2 separate regions of the Homo sapiens genome follow, and region 2 is linked to region 1. The links come from fine-mapping of genetic effects on gene expression. A gene starts in region 1. The other region holds a variant in brackets. All regions are shown on one strand. Distances are between the middles of the regions.

Region 1 (4,393 bases):
AATAAGATAATGCAAAAAAATCCATTACAAAATACATAGCTGGATGCAGTGGCTCATGCCTGTAATCCCAGCATTTTGGGAGGCCAAGGTGGGCGAATGACCTGGGATCACGAGTTCGAGACCAGCCTGGCCAACATCTCTACTAAAAATACAAAAATTGGCCAGGCATGGTGGCACGTGCCTGTAATCCCAGCTATTCAGGAGGCTGAGGCAGGAGAATCACTTGAACCTGGGAGGCAGAGGTTGCAGTGAGCAGAGACTGCACCACTGCCCTCCAGCCTGGGTGACAGAGCAAGACTTCATCTCAAAAAAAAATACAATTGCAAAATACAAAAGAACCTATCAGATTACTGTTACTAGATACATCCATTCATTTCATTAATGTATGTTTATTGTGCATCTACTATGCACCAGCAACTATACTATGCCTAGGATCTGAGGCAGTGACAATATCCTTGCTATCTTCAAGCTGAATCAGGCATAATTAGATATTCAAGTGGAGATGTAAAGTGAGCATTTGACAGACTGGATTTCAGGGGATAGATCCTGGTTAAAAATATACACTTGGAAGTTATTAGTGTTTAATAATGAAATACTAAAATGTATGAGCCTGAATTGGGTCACTTTAGGTACAGTGCATGTAAATTGAGAGGAGAAGAGGCTTAATGACTAAGATCCAAGATGCTTCAGAATTTGGGGGTCAAAAAGACAAAGAGGAACAAGCAATGAGAGTGAGAAAAAGCAGCCAGTAATGCAGAAAGAGAAATAATAGAGAGTGGTGTCCGGGTTAATTTATGCTGAAAAGTCAATTCATATGACAATTGAGAATTGACCATCAGCTTAGCACCATGGAGGTCATTTGCCAAAGTGGAACAGGTTCAACATGGAATGGAAAGATTTTGGCATAAAGGGAAGAAGGAAAATAGGGTGGCAATAAGTGGAAAGGGTGTCAAGAGATATTATATATATGTATGTTTATGTGTGTGTATAATTTATATATATAAATTAAATAGAGCCAATTATATATATGATAAATAGAGCTATATATATATATAGGCTCTCTATATATAGAGCTTGGGTACAGCTTCCTATGAGGATGGAAACTTTACCCAGAGATGCAAAGGAGGAGGAAGACTGCTTCCTTCAGGCGGTTCTCTCTTAAGAGGAAAATGGTCAAACTGAGTGAGCATACCCAGTTGTATTTGCAAATTTATTAATCCAAGTCATGCAAGTCACATCAACTTCTCAGGAGCAGACTGAACAAGAGGGAAGAGAGAGGGGTTAAAGGAGGGATAAGTAGATTTCAGCGAGAGCAAAAACGTTAAAGAAATATTTCGAGAAGTCGAAAACGAAGAGAATTTTGCTGAAGAAGATTCTAAGTTCCAGAGGCTACAGTGGAAAGATGTGGGGAGTTGGAGTGGGAGACAGGTCAGACTAGAGTGTGTGTAGTTTGGGACAATGATATTTCTCCTGTAGTACTTGGAACAGGGGCTAGGTTAGATAAATATTTGTTCCTTGAGAGAAACCTGACAAGACCTGCATGGGGCTGGGGTAATACATTGGTCCACATGGACCCCTGTTTGAGTAGAAGTGTTATCTCCAATAAGGTCTAGTCTGCTTAGACCAAGGGGTCAGGAAAGGCTGACCTTGATTATCTTCTCCTTCTGTCCCTCCCTCTCCTCCACACCTGGCCCAGTAGAGGAAGGAAAACTAGATTTACAGCTGATCTTGATTATCTTCTCCTTCTCTCCCTCCCTCTCCTCCACAGCTGGCCCAGGAGAGGAAGGAAAACTAGATTTACAGCGGCCCAGCCCTTCCCCCTGAAAGCCAGAGGCACAGGTTGCTTTACTACCACCGAGACAAAAGTGATCTGTCTCCTTTATGTCATTCTAATCCTTACAGAAGAATTTGTGGCAGCAGTACGAAGACTATAGCTAGGAGGATCAGCACCTCAGAAGCTCTTTGAAAATTGCTAGAGGATGAGGGCAGTGGGCAAGAGGAAAGTTCCTCTGAGCACCTTCTGTTAAAAGGAGAAGCCAGGCCTTGGGGATGTTCCTTCAGTTTCACAAGTGGCAAGATTTTCACCTCCGGTTGGCAGCTTTCAAATCGTTTCCCATTTCTCCAACTTAGGAAGAAGCTGTGAAAACCGCAGGCAAACGGGGATGAATGATTCATTTGGTCCTGGCCATTTCCTTCATTCCTAGGGTGTCTCAATATCTCTCTACTCTGTTATTTAAGCATAATAATAATAATAATAATAATAATAATAATAATAATAATAATAATAATAAATCATCTGCTTCCCTGGGACTTTCAGCGGAGTCGTTAGGCACGTGATGAAACCTTGGTTTGCACGGGGCTCCATCCATCCATTCATCCGTGCATCCGTCCGTCCATCTGTCCATCCATTCACTAGACCACCCACCCACCTACCACCCACCCACCCATCGCACAGCCTTCCTCCCTTTCCGGCTTACACTGGGCGTTAAACTCCGGTCTCTCCAGGCCTCCGGCGCACGTACACACGCGCGGGCGAGCGGGCGGGGTGTGCGGGAGCGCGGGCTGGCCGCGCCGGGGGCAGGACTACAGCCTCCCGAGGGGCGCGAGGGCGGGAGGCCGGGGAGGCCCGGGAGGCCCGGGCGGTGTGGCGGCGGCCGAGCCGAGCCCATCCGAGCCGGCACCTTCGGACGCCCCTGTCCCACGTGACTGTCCCCTCCTCCCTCCTCCCAGTCGCGCGCACGGGCCGGGCGTCTCGACTCCCGCGCGCGCTCGGCTGGTCCCAGTCCCCGGGAGAAGAAGCGGAGGAGGGAGAGAGCCAGCGAGGCGGCCCAGGGGAGCGGGCGCGAGTGGCGGCTGCCGGAGCCGCCTGTGCACGGGCGGCGGCGAGGCGAGGGTGGCGGTCGCCTGAGCAGCTAGAGCCGGGGCGGCGCGGAATCCGCATCCGCCGCGAGTGTGATGAAGCTACCCTGCCTCGCTGCTCCGCTTGCCGCCAGCTGACACCGCCTGCACCCAGCCCGCCCGGGAGGGGAGACGCCGCGGGGCCGTGACCTTGGCGGAGGAGGTAAATAGGGAAGGCGGGCGGGGAGGAGGCAGCGCCACCCAGAGCCCTCCCGGCCCCCGGCCCGCACCCAGCCCTCGCTCTGCGCAGCGGGAGCGTCCGCGGGCGCAGGGCGGCCGCCCCCGGGAGCCCCGCGCCGGGGCTGGGCTACGGGCGCCGCGCGCACCCCGCGGTCCACGGTGCTGAAACTGCTGCCCGGCTCCGGCGGCCGCCGCGGCGCGGGGCACAGGCTCGCCTGCCATTTGCTGCTGCCGTGAGAGCGAGCAAGGGGAGCAGGGGCTTGCCTGTTTTCTCCTCTTTGGCTGGTTGCTCTGGAGGCTTCTGCAGTTAGGCTTTTACCCACGGTGACCCGGGTAAAATGGCCTGAAGGCTTGACCTCCCACTAGTTCTTGTTGCCGGGACATATTCTGGTGTCTTCTTGCAAAAATTAGGCAGGATTACCTCCGGACTTCCGAAGCGAAGTGGGGAGAAAGGAGAGCAGCCGGTGGCTGGCAGCGCAGGCAGGTGAAAGTAGGCGAAGCATATACTCCGGCTCTGTGTGGGAGACCCGGGGGAATAGAGAGGAAGCCCGTGCGCTGGAGAATGACACCGGGAATGGGCCTCTCTGATGGGCTGCAGGTGGGGACACTAGACAGATACCTAGGAGAAAGTGTGCTAACCCGCCCCCCACTCCCCCACCGCATCCCCCAGGTGTTGCCTTTCCACCCTTTGGGGAAAACATCACCAAGTTCAGATGCAAGTATTGGGAGAGAAGAGAACTCTGTACTAGGAAAATGCTACCCACGAGTTTTTAGGGTGAGCATCAAACACTTCTCAAAATGAGTATCCAGAAAATGAAGTCAGCTAAAACAATAACCAAATGGCTATTTCTACCTGGAAGATTGTAATTTCTTACAATTCCTTGAGGTTATTGTAGGTGTCAACTCACTTTTTAAAAAATCCATGTCCTGTGTCACTTTCTCCAGCCAGCCCCAGTTTGTAAGAACGCGCCATGTGGGGTGGGTGCTGTGAATGATGATGATGAATCAGGGGAGTCCCACTGGGATCTCACTGAAGTCTCTCTGACCCTTTGCAGGGCACACTGATAATTCTTGTATCTTGAGAGTGGACCAAGTTTTGGGTGACATGGCCCAGGGGAATAATTATGGGCAGACCAGCAACGGGGTGGCCGATGAATCACCCAACATGCTGGTGTACAGAAAGGTAAGAATGTCTTCAGTTTCTTGGAAAACGGGAAACTTCCGGCTTTCTCGATTTTTTTCCCCCTCTAGATCAGAGTATGTATCAACTTTGTGGCCTTGTGGATTTCCCAGATCATCAGTGATTATGTACTAT
Region 2 (4,393 bases), 100 kb before region 1:
CATCATGCTCTTGGACTTCTAGCCTCCAGAACTGTGAGCCAAATACACTTTTTTTTTAATTACTCAGTCTGTGGTATTCTGTTATAGCAGTAGAAAATGGACTAAGAAAGAGTATGAGAAATGAGTGCTCTAGCTATTGTAATTGTTTGGATGAATCAGGTCCAAATCCTCTTTAATCTCAATTTTTCTTGACAGAGAACATCTGCTCTTATTGGACAATTTTTACCACCCCCGGCTCACTTGGTGCCATAGAGGGCTGCCTGTTTTGAACAATTCAACTTAGATGTATTTTCTTTTCTCTTTTTCTTTCTTTCTTTCTTTCTTTTTTTTTTTTTTTTTTTGAGACAGAGTTTCACTCTTGTCATACATGCTGGAGTGCAATGGTGAGATCTTGGCTCACTGCAACCTCCACCTCCCGGGTTCAAGAGATTCTCCTGCCTCAGCCTCCTGAGTAGCTGGGATTACCAGTGCCTGCCACCATGCTCAGTTAATTTTTGTATTTTTAGTAGAGACAGAGTTTCACCACTTTGCCCAGGCTGGTCTTGAACTCCTGATCTCAGGTTATCTTCCTGCCTCAGCCTCCAAAGTGTTGGGATTACAGTTGTGAGCCACCATGCCCAGCCTATTTTCTTTACTAGAGTTTGCATTTGACTGTACTCACATTTGGTGTCTGGACACTCCAAAATTTAATATTTATCACTTTACTTGGGGTTTGTTTTATTTTTTGCTAACTTCCAATGATTCTGTGAGTTCACTTTAATATGAACAATACAAACTGCTGCTCTAATCATTTATAAATTCAAACAATGTGATTGTGCCAGACATCGTAGATATCCTCACCATACAAGATTTATTATGTCTGGCCCTGAGTGCTTACCTGTTTTGTGGTCAAAGGTAGCACAGTAAGGTTGCCAGGATGGTGAAGTCTCCGTGTGTGGGATGAGATGGAGTTGGAAGCCTGGTATAGTGTTTCTCCCAGAAGGGAATATGAGCCTGAACAAGTAATGTCTTATCACTAAGTGTCCTCAGCAAGAGTCCTCCAGGGACTACTGTGCAAACACAGAAAAGGGAAAGTGAATCCCAAAGGTACAGGACTCTGGAAAGCCACCAAGGGGAGTAATAGCTTTATTGAGCGTTTCATTCCAGGGACGCAAAACCTTTACCTTTAAGAGTTATATCGAAACTCCCCAACCCTAGCCATTTATTTTATAAAAAGCAGTTCACTTTCACCAAATAGAGTACGAGACAGTTTACAACAGAAATCATATCACCATTTCTTCCACTTTGTTTGCTTCAAAGAGAAGCCTATCAAGGACAAGGAAGTCAGTGCTGTTACTAAATAATTTGATTTGATTTGATCTTACTTGTTAAGCAGACATGTATGAAGCAGGCATGCATGAAATCAGCTGCATTACAACCCCAGAAGTGGTTTTGCATTCACTGTATTGAAGTTCACACAAAGCACAGCATTGAACTCCCTGATCTCATCTACTTGAGACTGATACTGAGACTTCAGGTGGACCAGACACATCATATAAGGATAAAAATAAGTATCTGGCATCAATCTGGAATAGGACTGGGGTCTCTGGGTGGCTAGACTGATGCTCTCCCCATTTGGCAGCACTGCCCTCCTGTAGGGCATTATGACTGGATCACTTTTGAAAGATGTGTCAGGGGTCCTTCGGTGATGAAGGATCTTTAATAGGAATGACAAAGACTAGATACCTCATTTAGCTTCTTTAAGTGATCTCTGAGGGAAGCTAGAGAAAAGGTTCTTAAAAGCTGCCACACCTCTGTAGCCCAGAAAGGAAATTTTCATATTTACTTCTTTAGAGAAACCAACTCCAGTCATCTACAGTGCTTTCTTTCTTTCTGACCCTTGGAAAAAATGTTATTTGCCACGTTTTAGCTCATACTGCTGGCCTAAGTGATAATGAACACAAGATAATATGTGATCTCCCTGAACAGTGTCTGAGATAGTATCCACCCTCCCTTGCTTTATTTCCCCCTGAACTTTGCAGCTGATATATTGTCTTTATATGCCTCTGCTTGTTTTCTGTCTCCCAGTGGGATATAAGTGCCTCAACAGCAGGGCCCTGGTCTAGCTTATCAGCTGTTGTGTTCTCAGCATAGAACCCTGCATGGCCTGGAAATTGTTGGTTGGTTGAACAAATAAGCAAAGCAACAGACGAACAGATGAATACCTTGCACAAAGGCTAATTCTATTAAATTCTTACCAAGGAGGTCTTACCAACAACATATAGCCAAGGTCATCACATGTCATTTTGCTTAGAGTTGCAGATTCCAAGAATCTTACAAAACAAAAAACAACAACACAAAAAAACCCTTTGTTTAAGACAATCAAAGATTGCCTTTCACAAACCAGAGCTAGTATAAATGTCCTTCCTGCACC[T/C]GAGGACATTTATTTGCATGCATATAACACTGTGTAGGCCCTTTTTAGTATTGTCAGAGTGATCCTGAATCCACAGAATGACCTTCCCATGTTCTGGATTTCAAGGCTCCCCAGGAAGAGTCACTTTTATCTGGATGACAGTGTGTTCAGCGCAGTAGCATCCCAGGTTTTCCAGAAAGCCCTTCAGGAAAAACTGTTTCCATCATGTTTTAAGCAAGTGCTTTTTTAGCCATGAAATGAAGACCTACCTCATGCTCCTTCAAGTAATTGCATGTATATGGAGGAAGGAGTGGTGGTTGTTGTGATAATATATACACAGGGGAGCTCAGGGGTATCTGGACAGCCAAGCCTGGAAAGCGGTGGTTCCGTGTTGAAGGCAACTGCAACAGCAAAGTGGTGAATTTGCTCAGATAGTCTCAGTGGCTTGGCACATGCCTGCTTCTCATGCATCTCTATTAGCACTCTCTCAATTATAGATCTTTATATGGATCTTGAGATAGGTGTCTTCTATCTACCTTATAGTTTCTGCTTATTCGTTGTTTGTGTTACCACGTAACTCCAGCTCACACAGGTTTCTCATGACCCCTCCAGCCTCTACAACAGAACCTTTTCATGAAAATGCAGCGGCTCCTAGCATAACTTTGTTTCATTTTAACATTGGAAGAAAAAAATAGATTCCCATCTGGGGCCACTCTCTGTGGAGTTTACACATTCTCCGCTTGTCTGTATGGGTTTGCTCTGGATACTCGCATTTCCTCTCACATCGTGGAGTGGAACGGTGTGTTTATGTGGTCCCAGTGTGAGTGAGAGTGGGTGTGTGTGTGTGACTGTACCCTGCAATGGGATGGTGTCCTGTCCTGAGCTGGTTCTGGCCTTGAGTCCTGAGCTGCTGGGATGGGCTTCACAGCCACCCATGACCCTGAACTGGAATGAATGGGTTGGAAAATGAGTAAATGAGTAAACATAAGTCATTGCCAAAGAAAAATGTGTAAAGTATACAATAATCATACAAAGGCACAACAATAAAGGATGCAGCAATAAAGCACTCAGTGAGCCGCCATATGTGATTGTTGGTTTTTTAAGCCACGTGGTGACTGGGGGTGCTCCTTATGATTTCAGCTGTGAAAACATTTATTCCTTGATTGAAACTACCTATGGTTGCCTTCACTCACTGATTCCAGAAATTGGGTAAATAATTATCTTACCTGTTTTTATTGATCTTTCTTAAATGTATGTGTAGCTCTCATTTATTTCAAGGTTTAATATTAGAAGTATTTTCAGTCTTTTGTTAGAGGTTTGGTAATGTTTTTGTGACCAGAAAAGTCACAGAAACTTAACTCTTTTTTTATATTAATTAGCCTATGGTAAAATTGGTTTCATTATCATTTTGCTTAAAGTCAGTTTCCAAGAACCTATCCACTACATTAATTGAGGACTTACTATGTACAAACTAAAATTAAAAGGCTTAATTATTCCTCTTGAAAATAAGAAAAGAGATTTTCCTCTCTTCCTTTTTCTTTAAGCATTTACCTTAGAAAACTTCTAGTTGTAAGTATTTTCTTCTCCCTTTGAAATGTATTTAAATCCTTTTGAAGATTAGGTAGGACTTTCCTCAGCTTTGTTATCCTGGAATGTCTTTCCCAAGGACCTGGCAGCCATCTCTTTGAAATGTAAACATCAAAGGACTTAGCACCCCCATCTCCCAGTTTCTGTGTCAGGGTAGAAGTCTGACTTCAGTGAGTATCTTGCTCCAAGTTGCAAAACTGCCTCCCAATATAAGACATGAGAAGTTGGTTTCTTCCTTTGGATAAAGCCAATTAGCTAATACAGGTGGTCAGCCCCATGCCTAGGTAAAGTTAGGATGAACTTTGTGTGACAGTTGGTGCTGTCAAGTCCTCTTATTTGAAGACTAGTTATTGCTTACCTTGAAAACACATACGTAATGGCTATATAAAAATGTGAGATTTCTTTCTGTCTTTG

Which allele goes with the higher level. Alleles are on the strand shown, and positions count from the first base shown. SD is a standard deviation of normalised expression in the study named.
In carriers of allele T in region 2, the expression in spinal cord of the gene that starts at base 2,755 in region 1 tends to be lower than with C alone (moderate effect, 0.45 SD a copy in GTEx).

Evidence for each region. PIP is the estimated chance that this variant, and not a neighbour inherited with it, causes the effect. A credible set is the group of variants that fine-mapping cannot tell apart.
Region 2: its variant is the best candidate, but not a certain one, in a credible set for the expression of RGS7 in spinal cord (GTEx, PIP 0.63).

What each region holds. Positions count from the first base shown.
Region 1 is chr1:241,355,567-241,359,959 of GRCh38, reverse strand. It overlaps RGS7 (regulator of G protein signaling 7), which reads left to right and starts at 2,755. Exons shown (of 19, transcript NM_001364886.1): 1 at 2,755-3,061; 2 at 4,134-4,261. The coding sequence starts at 4,184. It overlaps LOC124904601 (a long non-coding RNA gene), which reads right to left and starts at 2,708. Exons shown (of 2, transcript XR_007067052.1): 1 at 2,478-2,708; 2 at 1-2,137. RefSeq lists a silencer at 2,854-2,903.
Region 2 is chr1:241,457,294-241,461,686 of GRCh38, reverse strand. No RefSeq gene overlaps it. Among named protein-coding and RNA genes, the nearest start is that of FH, 60 kb to the left of the region's middle. The variant T/C (reference allele first, on the strand shown) is at 2,414.